2 separate regions of the Homo sapiens genome follow, and region 1 is linked to region 2. The links come from fine-mapping of genetic effects on gene expression. A gene starts in region 2. The other region holds a variant in brackets. All regions are shown on one strand. Distances are from middle to middle.

Region 1 (4,386 bases), 59 kb after region 2:
CTTCTCCCTTTCCCCTAGGCATTATTCCTATATGTTTCTAACAACACTTCTCACCACCACCCATCTCTCTCTCTCTCTCTCTCACACACACACACACACACACACACACACTTCCATATGGTTATACAGTCGAATATCCCCTTCATTTATCAGTAATTATCTTTCCCTGTCCCTTCTTCCTTGCCTTCCCATCATCTGGCAAAGACCTGGGGGCTGGAGATCAAGTAGAAAGGCTGGAAGAGTTCCAGGGACAGGAAGCATCCAGCCAGGTCCTGGACTGGGCTGGGCCGGCCAGATGGGGCAGGGTGGACAGGGAATAACATTTGGAAAAAGCAGGCCATTGATTGCTGTCTCCCAGAAAAAGGGTCTTGAACCTGGTGGGGGGTGGTGAGGGAGCAGCAAGCTACTAAGTTCTTTTTCCTACAGAGGGGATGCGGACACACACCCACTCTTTCCCAACTCCCCTAGCAGTTGGCAGAGCTGACTTGGCTGCCTCTTACACGTGGTGATTTTAAACATTTGCCAGCCTCTAGGTCCCAGGGAGTCTCATACCAGCAGCAAGAATCCACTCCCCTCTCCCAACATGGGGGCTGAGAGGAAGGGCTCTAGCAGACAGCAGTGATGAATGAGACACGGTGGAGAATGGATGAGCCAGGAAGAGGGGGAAAGCAGGGATCCCAAGGGGACGGAAAGAAAGCAGAGGCAGCCTAACAGCTAGCAGCCACCTGGCTGGCTCGTGAGGAGCCTAGAAATGCCTGGGGGGACATTTTTCCTCCTTGTCATGATCCACCAGCTCACGCTGTTCTCATGGGTGGAAGGTGAGGGGAAGATGCTAGGACCTTACCAGCACAAGGTTGTAGTGAGTCATGGGTGGAGACAAGGCTGCCATGGTTTTATGCTCAGGAGGAGTCAAGACAGAGACAGAGAGATAAATGACGGGAGTGTCTACTACTTATCCTGCTGCTTGGAGCTCTCACTTCCGACATTGAACATGGGGACCAGCAGGCCCAGCAGCCACCTCTTTCCGAAGACCTCTTGTAAGTTCTTGCGCCAGGGCCGGGCCCTCACTGCCACCCCCTTCCGCACCTGGTGGCGGGTCTGCCCGCGGAGGATCAACAGCAGCTGGTGGCAGCAGAAGCCGGCGCAGGCCAGGCCGATGGCGAACCAGAGGTAGAGCATGAGGATGACGAACATTTCAGAACCCAGGACAGCTCCTGCAGGGCACGGGGAGGGGAAACACCAGAGCCGCTTTACACCCAGGCCACCGGCATAACTGCGATCTAGGCAGGCTTTCCACCGGGAGGGAGGGAGATTAATGAGATTGACGCTACATTTTGTAGCAACCTCAGCGCTGCAGCTGCAGTGAGGGAGAGGAAGGAAGAACCAGCTGCCCTAACTTTTTCTTGGCGCGGATGGCACCTGAGGCAAGAGGGGAAGACTGGAGACATGGCAGAGAAGAGAGCTAAGTTTGATGAGCTTAGCAAGGACAGCCCTCAGCTCCTGGGGCAGCACCTGGCCGCTGATAACATTTCTGTAGAGTAGGAGATGCCTGTCTCTCTCTGCTTTCTCCTTTTGGGCTAGAAGCAGGGTGAAGGGGTTTTGCTCAGGAGGAGAGAGGGGTGAGCTGGGGACCCTAAAGAGGGAGCAGGTGCCTGGGCAGCTGTCTAGTCCACAGCACCTTCTCCCTACTGTTCTGGGAACGCTGGTTGAGAGGACTCAGGAAAATGACAGCATGATGGAGATCTGGGAAGAATAAGTCACGAGCTTAGTCTGAAGAGCAGCCCAGAACACCAACGTAGAGAATAATTCAGTCATTAATGTTAACAAGAGGACAGTGTGGCCACCACCGCATTCCACCAGAGCTGGTTCTGTCAATCAAAGCTTGCTAGAAGAGGCCCCCAAGGTCATCAGCCCTGTGTCGTGGGGCAGGATCTCCCCAGAATCCCTCTAAACCAAGCACTTCCTATTACTGGTTTGAAATAACCACTGAGTAAGAGCTCCCACACTCTTCCTCAGAGTTTGGGTGGCTGGTCCATGCTAGGTTTGAATCTCCCAGCTGTGTGGACTGGCACAAGTGTCCCAACCTCTCAGTTGCAGCTCGTTCATCTGTACAATGGGTATAATAACACTAACGATTTCATACAGCTGCATGTTTCAAGAAAATGATGTACAGAGTGGTCAGCATTCCGGTTCACACTCAGAGCGGTGCTCCCAGCAGAGGGTCATTTTACAGAGCAGGAGACTACATCCAAAATGAGTTCAACTCCTGAAACTATCAAGCTTTTTCCTTCTCCTTTTCAGGGCTTAGAGTCCTGGCTGGGCTGCAACTTTGGCAGCTGTGGCAAAGACACTTACCTTGACCTACCCAGCAGCCAGGGCACTGGACCCTGGAGTTAATTCGAAAGTATTCCTTAGCCTTTGGTTCCCTGTAGGGCAACCCTATCACCTCCTCTGG[T/TG]GGGGGGGGGGCACCTCCTCTAAGGACTCCACCTTACAACCTATTCTGCCCTTGAAAATCTCAACCATATTTTGCCCTTTCCCTAGCCTTCTCTTGCCCCAGCCCACCTCTTCCCAAGTCTCTCCAACCTCCAATTTCCAAAGCCCTGTCAACTGGGCTTTCAACACTTGTCCAGTATGAGCAGTGGTGGACTCAGCAGCCATGGAGGATGTGGATCTGATTTAGATTCTCTCATTAGCAGCCTCCTCTTGTCCTCATCCCTAGGAGCTTGGATAGCTGTATTATTTTTTTTTTTTTTTACAAAGCTGGGGACAGATAGGCCCAGCTGCCATTTACAGCAGCCCCTCCACTGGCACAGGGGCAGCAGTGGGACAGGGCTCACATTGGGCTGTGCCATCCCCTGACCCACTTCTTCCATGTCGGCACAGATTAGCTTGGGCAGCCATGTGGGGGATGGAGGATCCCAGGTCCATGGTGCTCTTTGGCGTGAGGAATGCTGACAGGCAAAGGTGGCCCTCAAGCTGGGATGTGAGAACATCAGAGCTGTCAAGCTTGGGCCTGCCTTGCAACACTGCCCCAGGAACAAGCCTGGGTGGATGGAAGCCATTTCCCACAGGGTTTTTTCCTGGCACTAAATCAAGGCATGAGAAAAAGAACTTGCGGCCTTTTCTTGGCCCCATGCAGCAGCTACAAAAGGCTATTCTGGGGACCTGCTTTCTCTAAAAGTGTTTGAAGTTACCTAGCCTGGCTGCTTCAGCTCCTCTTAACTATTTAATAATAGTTCTGCCTCTTTTTAAAAATCACAGAATTTTCCTAATGAGCCTAAAAGGACACATCAGTCAATCTCCCCTGCCCCTTCCTCCCAACAGGCATCTATAACACCTTTGACAAATAATCACCCAGCATACTTTTTAATACATCCAAGGACAAGTAGCTGCCTCCCTTCCAAAGTGGCTCATTCGAGAAGCAGCTTCAGAGAGGCAGCCCCCAAGAGGCAGTATGGTGGGTGGAAAGAGTATGAGCTTTGGAGGCTAGAAGCCCCAACTCCAAATCTTGGTTTGGAATCGTACCAGCTGTGTGGTGTTGGTGCAACTTAACCTTGCTGAGTCTTTGGTTTCTGAGCCTTAAAAATGGACATGATAATATGGACTTGTCAAGAGGAATGGGTGAAATGTGACATGCATAGTGGGTGGTACATAATAGGTGCTCAATGAACATTAGTCCCCTTTCCCTCTTACTGGACTTTCTGGTAGCACCCATCATGCTGGTGTACTTACCCAAATGCCAAGATACAGGTCAGATGGTGGCATCTCCATTTCCCAGATAAGAATAAGGTTCAGAGAGGTGACACAGCAACCTGTACTGGTCCCACAAAGCCAAAAGAAAGGGTAACTTCTGAAACCTAACTAGCTAGCCGCCTCCCTCTCTGGATCAGCTGAGGGCCTGTGGTTGGCCGCCACCTTCACACTAGAAGACCCCTCCCACTTTTAGCTCTCAAGGCCCAAACTCACAGCCATCCATGCTCTGGTGACAGATCTGACTCAGATCTGTACCACAGTTGGGGACAGCTCAATTTCTTTCTTTCTTTTTTTCTTGAGACAGGGTCTTGCTCTGTAGCCCAGGCTGGATAGAGTGCAGTGGCATGATCATAGCTCACTGCAGCCTCAAACTCTTGGGCTCAAGCAATTCTCTCACCTCAGCCTCCTGAGTAGCTGGGAAAACAGGCACATGCCACTATGCCTGGCTAGTGTATTTATTTATTTTTTATTTTTGTAGCAACGGAGTCTCACCATCTTGCCCAGGCTGATCTTGAACTCAATTTCTATTAAACAACCCATGCTTCTTACTCTTTTCTGTCCACCTGTCCTCCTGTGCAGATGAGAGAGGGTGCTACCAACTGTTCGGATTGAGGGTTGGGGAACAAGAGGAAT
Region 2 (4,386 bases):
GGCAGCTGACTTCTCCCAGAATGAGTGGTTCAAGAGAGCAGGGAGGAGGTCACAATGTCTCTTATGACTATATTAGATCCACAGGGCTGCTGTAACAAAGTACCACAAGCAAGATAACTTAACAGAAATTTACTCTTTCACAGTTCTGGGGGCCAGAAGTCTGAAACCACATTGTCAGCAGGGTCAGAACGGTGGCACATGGAAGGTGCTCATTGGTGAAACAATGAGTGGGAAAGAATAAATCATTCCTTGCCTCTTCCAACTTCTGACGGCCGCAGATGTTTCTTGGCTTGTGGCTGTATCATTCCAATCTCTGTCTCCATCTTCACACGGCCTTCTCCCTTGTGTCTGTCTACTCTTTGTCTCTCTCTCCTTATGAGAACACCAGTCATTGGATGTAGGGCCCACTCTAGTCAAGAACAACCCTTGATTACAACTGCGAAGACTATTTCCAGAAAAGGTCACATTTATAGGCCCTGGGGGTTAGGGCTGCAACATATCTTCTGGGGGACATCATTAAACACACAACAATGACCTAGCCTCAGAAGATGCATGCCATCAGCTCTGCAATAGCAAGTGGCTACAAGGGTCGGCCCTGTTCACGGAGGGAGGAGACACAATGATGTGAATACCAGGAGATGGGGACAATGAGGGGCCATTGTGGAAGCAGGCTACCACAATATCATCAGATAGCAAACTGAACATGAGACAGACTCCCATATGTAGTATTTACAAAGGAAATAATGGGGAACCAGTTGCATAGCACTCAGGGCCCTCAGCCTACCAACAATATAGAGTGTGGAGAATGGGGAGAGTTTGGAAATAGAAACTTCCAGAAAGGGCAAAGCCATGCTGTAAGCTACCCCACCAAGGAGTTAGGGGCCCTACTGCTTTCAACTCAAGCCTAGTGATGGGGGCTTCCATGCAGCCACTTGGAGCTGTGGGCCCCCATGGGACTGTGCCAGGAGGGACTGCATTAGGATGAGTGAAGGGGCTGTGTGAGTTCTTCCCATGGGCCACATGTGGATCAGATGGACCATGGCAGGAGAGAGGGCCAAGGTGGGGGTCATTTTAAGTCCTGTAGGGCCTCTGAGAAGGGCAAAGGGATGTCAGCAGAAAGAAGTTGGAAGAGGATGCTGGATTTCTAGGGGTTGAAGATGGAGTCATAGCTGTACCTGAAATGGAGGTGCAGAACAGGGAACTTCAGGAGAAAACCTTAGAGATGGGAACTTTTTTTTTTTTTTTTTTTAAGACAGGGTCTCACTCTGTTGCCCAAGCTGGAGTCCAGTGGCCCAAACTCGGCTCACAGCAACCTCTACCTCCTGGGTTCAAGCAATCCTCCTGCCTCAGCCTCCCAAGTAGCTGGGACTACAGGCGTGCAGCACCACCCCCAGATACTTTTTGTATTTTTGGTAGAGATGAGGTTTAGCCATGTTGCTCGGGCTGGTCTAGTACTCCTGGGCTCCAGTGATCTGCCCGCCTCCGCCTTCCAAAGTGCTGGGATTATAGGCGTGAGCCACCAAGCCTGGCTGAGATGGGAACTTCTGAAGAACACAGGGAACCCTCCAGAAAGAGCTTTCACCATCTGCCACACCCAGAGAGCTGGCAATCATACAGTCAAGTAAAAACTGCCCTATTCCCCTGCTCCCCATCCGCTTCCCTGCATCCTCACCCACCACCTCCACTTAGACTCTGAAAGCAACCAGCAAGTGGGGAGAGGGGTATTCGGGAGAGAATAGACAAAAGCCACCATGCCCAGTCCCTGGCAGCTGGCAGCCCCCAACTAAGGCCTTAACTAGGGCAGGAGGAAGAAGATTTCTCTTTGAAGAAAAATGCAAGAGTCATTTAATATCTTTGGGTGGCTGCTTTAAATCTCTAAGTCGATACTGGATTTCGTGACATAAAATGTACATACCTAAGCATGACCAGAAGAGCCTCGGGGTCAGCTGAGCTTTCAGCCAGGGGAAGGGGAAATGCTTCCCTTGCTTTAGCTCAAATGCACAGTGAGAGCCAAAGCAAATTGAGTTACATGTTGGTTCCACCCCACATTCAAGGGATTGGTTTCACCGAATCCCCGCCTCCACAGGGAATTGGGTCTTATATTTCTTACCCCCAACCCTCCCCGCCATGGCAGAGCCACAAGGAGGTTCCTGAAGAAAATCCCTTCTCGGCTTTTGTGCAGAATTGAAGAATGTTTACTATGTTTTCCTTCCTGTCTCTCTGGAAATGACGCAAAGAATAACAACAACAAAAAAGAACTCCTTGTCCCGTGCAAAACACCCGCCCCTCCCCCGCCCCTGACCTCCTAACTCTTCACCCTGTGTTGGCCTGACTTCACCCTGGGATGGGGAAACTTCCTGGGAGGATATAGCTGACCTGGGAACAAAACTTGTTTTTTTGAAAGCTTTGTGCAACGTCAACTAAGTTGGGGGAGGGGTCTGGGCAAGGAAAGAAGAAAGCAAAGGGGGGCAGGGTGGGAACAGTTCTGCTAAACCAAACAATTCCCCAGGGATGATGGAGCTGTGGTGACCTGATAAGTCCTTTAAATGTCTTATTAATTACTGGGGGAAAAATTGGCTACTTCTGAGTCTCCCCTCTCTCACTGTCCTTGCACAAGCTTGGGACTAGCTCTGTCCTTTTTTAAGAGTCAGTCTTGGGCCGGGCATAGTGGCTCACTCCTGTAATCCCAGCACTTTGGGAGGCTAAGGCAGGAGGATCCCTTGAGGCCAGGAGCTTGAGACCAGCCTGGGCAACATAGCGAGACCTCATCCCTACAAATAATTTTTAAAAATTAGCTTGGAGTGTTGGTGTGTGTCTGTGGTCCCTGCTACTCAGGAGACTGAGGCAGGAGGATTACTTAAGCCCAGGCAGTGGAGGCAGCAGTGAGCTGTGATTGCACTATTGCACTCCAGCCTGGGTGATAGAGCAAGAACCTATCTCAAAAAAAAAAAAAAAAAAAAAAGAGTCCAGCTTTTTAAAGAAGGGTGCCCCTTGGTGGAAGACAACAGGACAAGGCAGGAGCTGGGGCTGCGGAGAGTCCGGGGTCTGCAGAGCATGGGGCTGCCATCAGAGACCCACCAGGCAGGTTCCTGCTCCTAGCAAGGACCCGGCTGAGCAGAGATGAGGGTGTGGAGGTGAACCTGGAAAACATGCAGAGGATTCTAGACACATTCCACAGTCAGAGCCTCTGGAAAGCCCACCTTCTCCATCACAGAGGCTTTGGGGAATAGACATCCTGTTTCTCTGTATTATTACAGCACAAAGCATTTATCATGCTGACAATGACAGTGACATTTCAGGACCTAAACAAGCTTAGTTGTTCACAGCTTACAGGAGAGAAGGCTCCTAACACTCTTTATTTATTTATTTATTTGTTTGTTTATTTATTTTGTTTTTGTTTTTTTTTGTTTTGAGACAGAGTTTCGCTCTGTCGCCCAGGCAGACAGAGTGCAGTGGCAAGATCTCGGCTCACTGCAAGTTCCGCTTCCAGGGTTCACGCCATTCTCCTGCCCAGCCTCCCGAGTAGCTGGGACTACAGGTGCCTGCCACGGCGCCTGGCTAATTTTTTGTATTTTTAGTAGAGGCGGGGTTTCACCGTGTTAGCCAGGATAGTCTCCATCTCCTGACATCTTGATCCACCCACCTCGGCCTCCCAGAGTGCTGGGATTACAGGCGTGAGCCACCGCGCCCGGCCTATTTATTTGTTTTTTGAGACAGAGCCTTGCTCTGTCATCCAGGCTGGAGTGCAATGGTGTGATCTCGGCTTATTGCAACTTCCACCTCCCAGGTTCAAGCAATTCTCCTGCCTCAGCCTCCCGAGTAGTCGGGACTACAGGTGTGCACTACCACAGCAGGCTATTTTTTTTTTTTTTTTTTAGTAGAGACAGAGTTTCTCCACGTTGGCCAGGCTGGTCTCGAACTCCTGACCTCAGACAATCTGCCTGCCACATGATTAGGTCCTGAGGGCTCTCCCCTCATGAATGGGATTAAGACTTTTATAAAAGAGGCCTGAAGGAGCTTGTTGACCCCTTCTGCCATGCAAGGACACAGAGGAGGCACCATGTATGAGGAATGAGCCCTCACAAGACACTGAATCTGCTGGCGCCTTGACCTTGGACTTTCCAGTCTCCAGAACTGTGAATGATAAATTTCCATTGTTTATAAATTACCCAGTCTAAGGTATTTTGTTATAGCAGCCAAAACCATCTACAGAGCACTAATGACAGTTTGGGCTGGATTATTCTTCGTTGTCGGGGCTGCCCTGTACATTGTAGGATGTTTTGGAATATCCCTGGCCTCTATCCACAAGATGCCAGTAGCGCCTCCCCCAACTCCATGACAAAACTGTCCCTTGGGGGCAAAATTACCCCTGGTTGAGAATCACGG

The links.
Region 1: its variant is fine-mapped to the expression of LINC02289 in whole blood (INTERVAL, PIP 0.92).

Annotation. Positions count from the first base shown.
Region 1 is chr14:77,132,735-77,137,120 of GRCh38, forward strand. ZDHHC22 (zDHHC palmitoyltransferase 22) reads right to left here. Exons shown (of 3, transcript NM_174976.2): 3 at 1-1,214. The coding sequence ends at 949. Among named protein-coding and RNA genes, the nearest start is that of ZDHHC22, 6.9 kb to the right of the region's middle. RefSeq lists an enhancer at 1,054-1,553. The variant T/TG (reference allele first, on the strand shown) is at 2,456.
Region 2 is chr14:77,074,190-77,078,575 of GRCh38, forward strand. LINC02289 (long intergenic non-protein coding RNA 2289) reads right to left here and starts at 2,002. Exons shown (of 3, transcript NR_110553.1): 1 at 1,916-2,002. RefSeq lists a silencer at 1,857-2,151.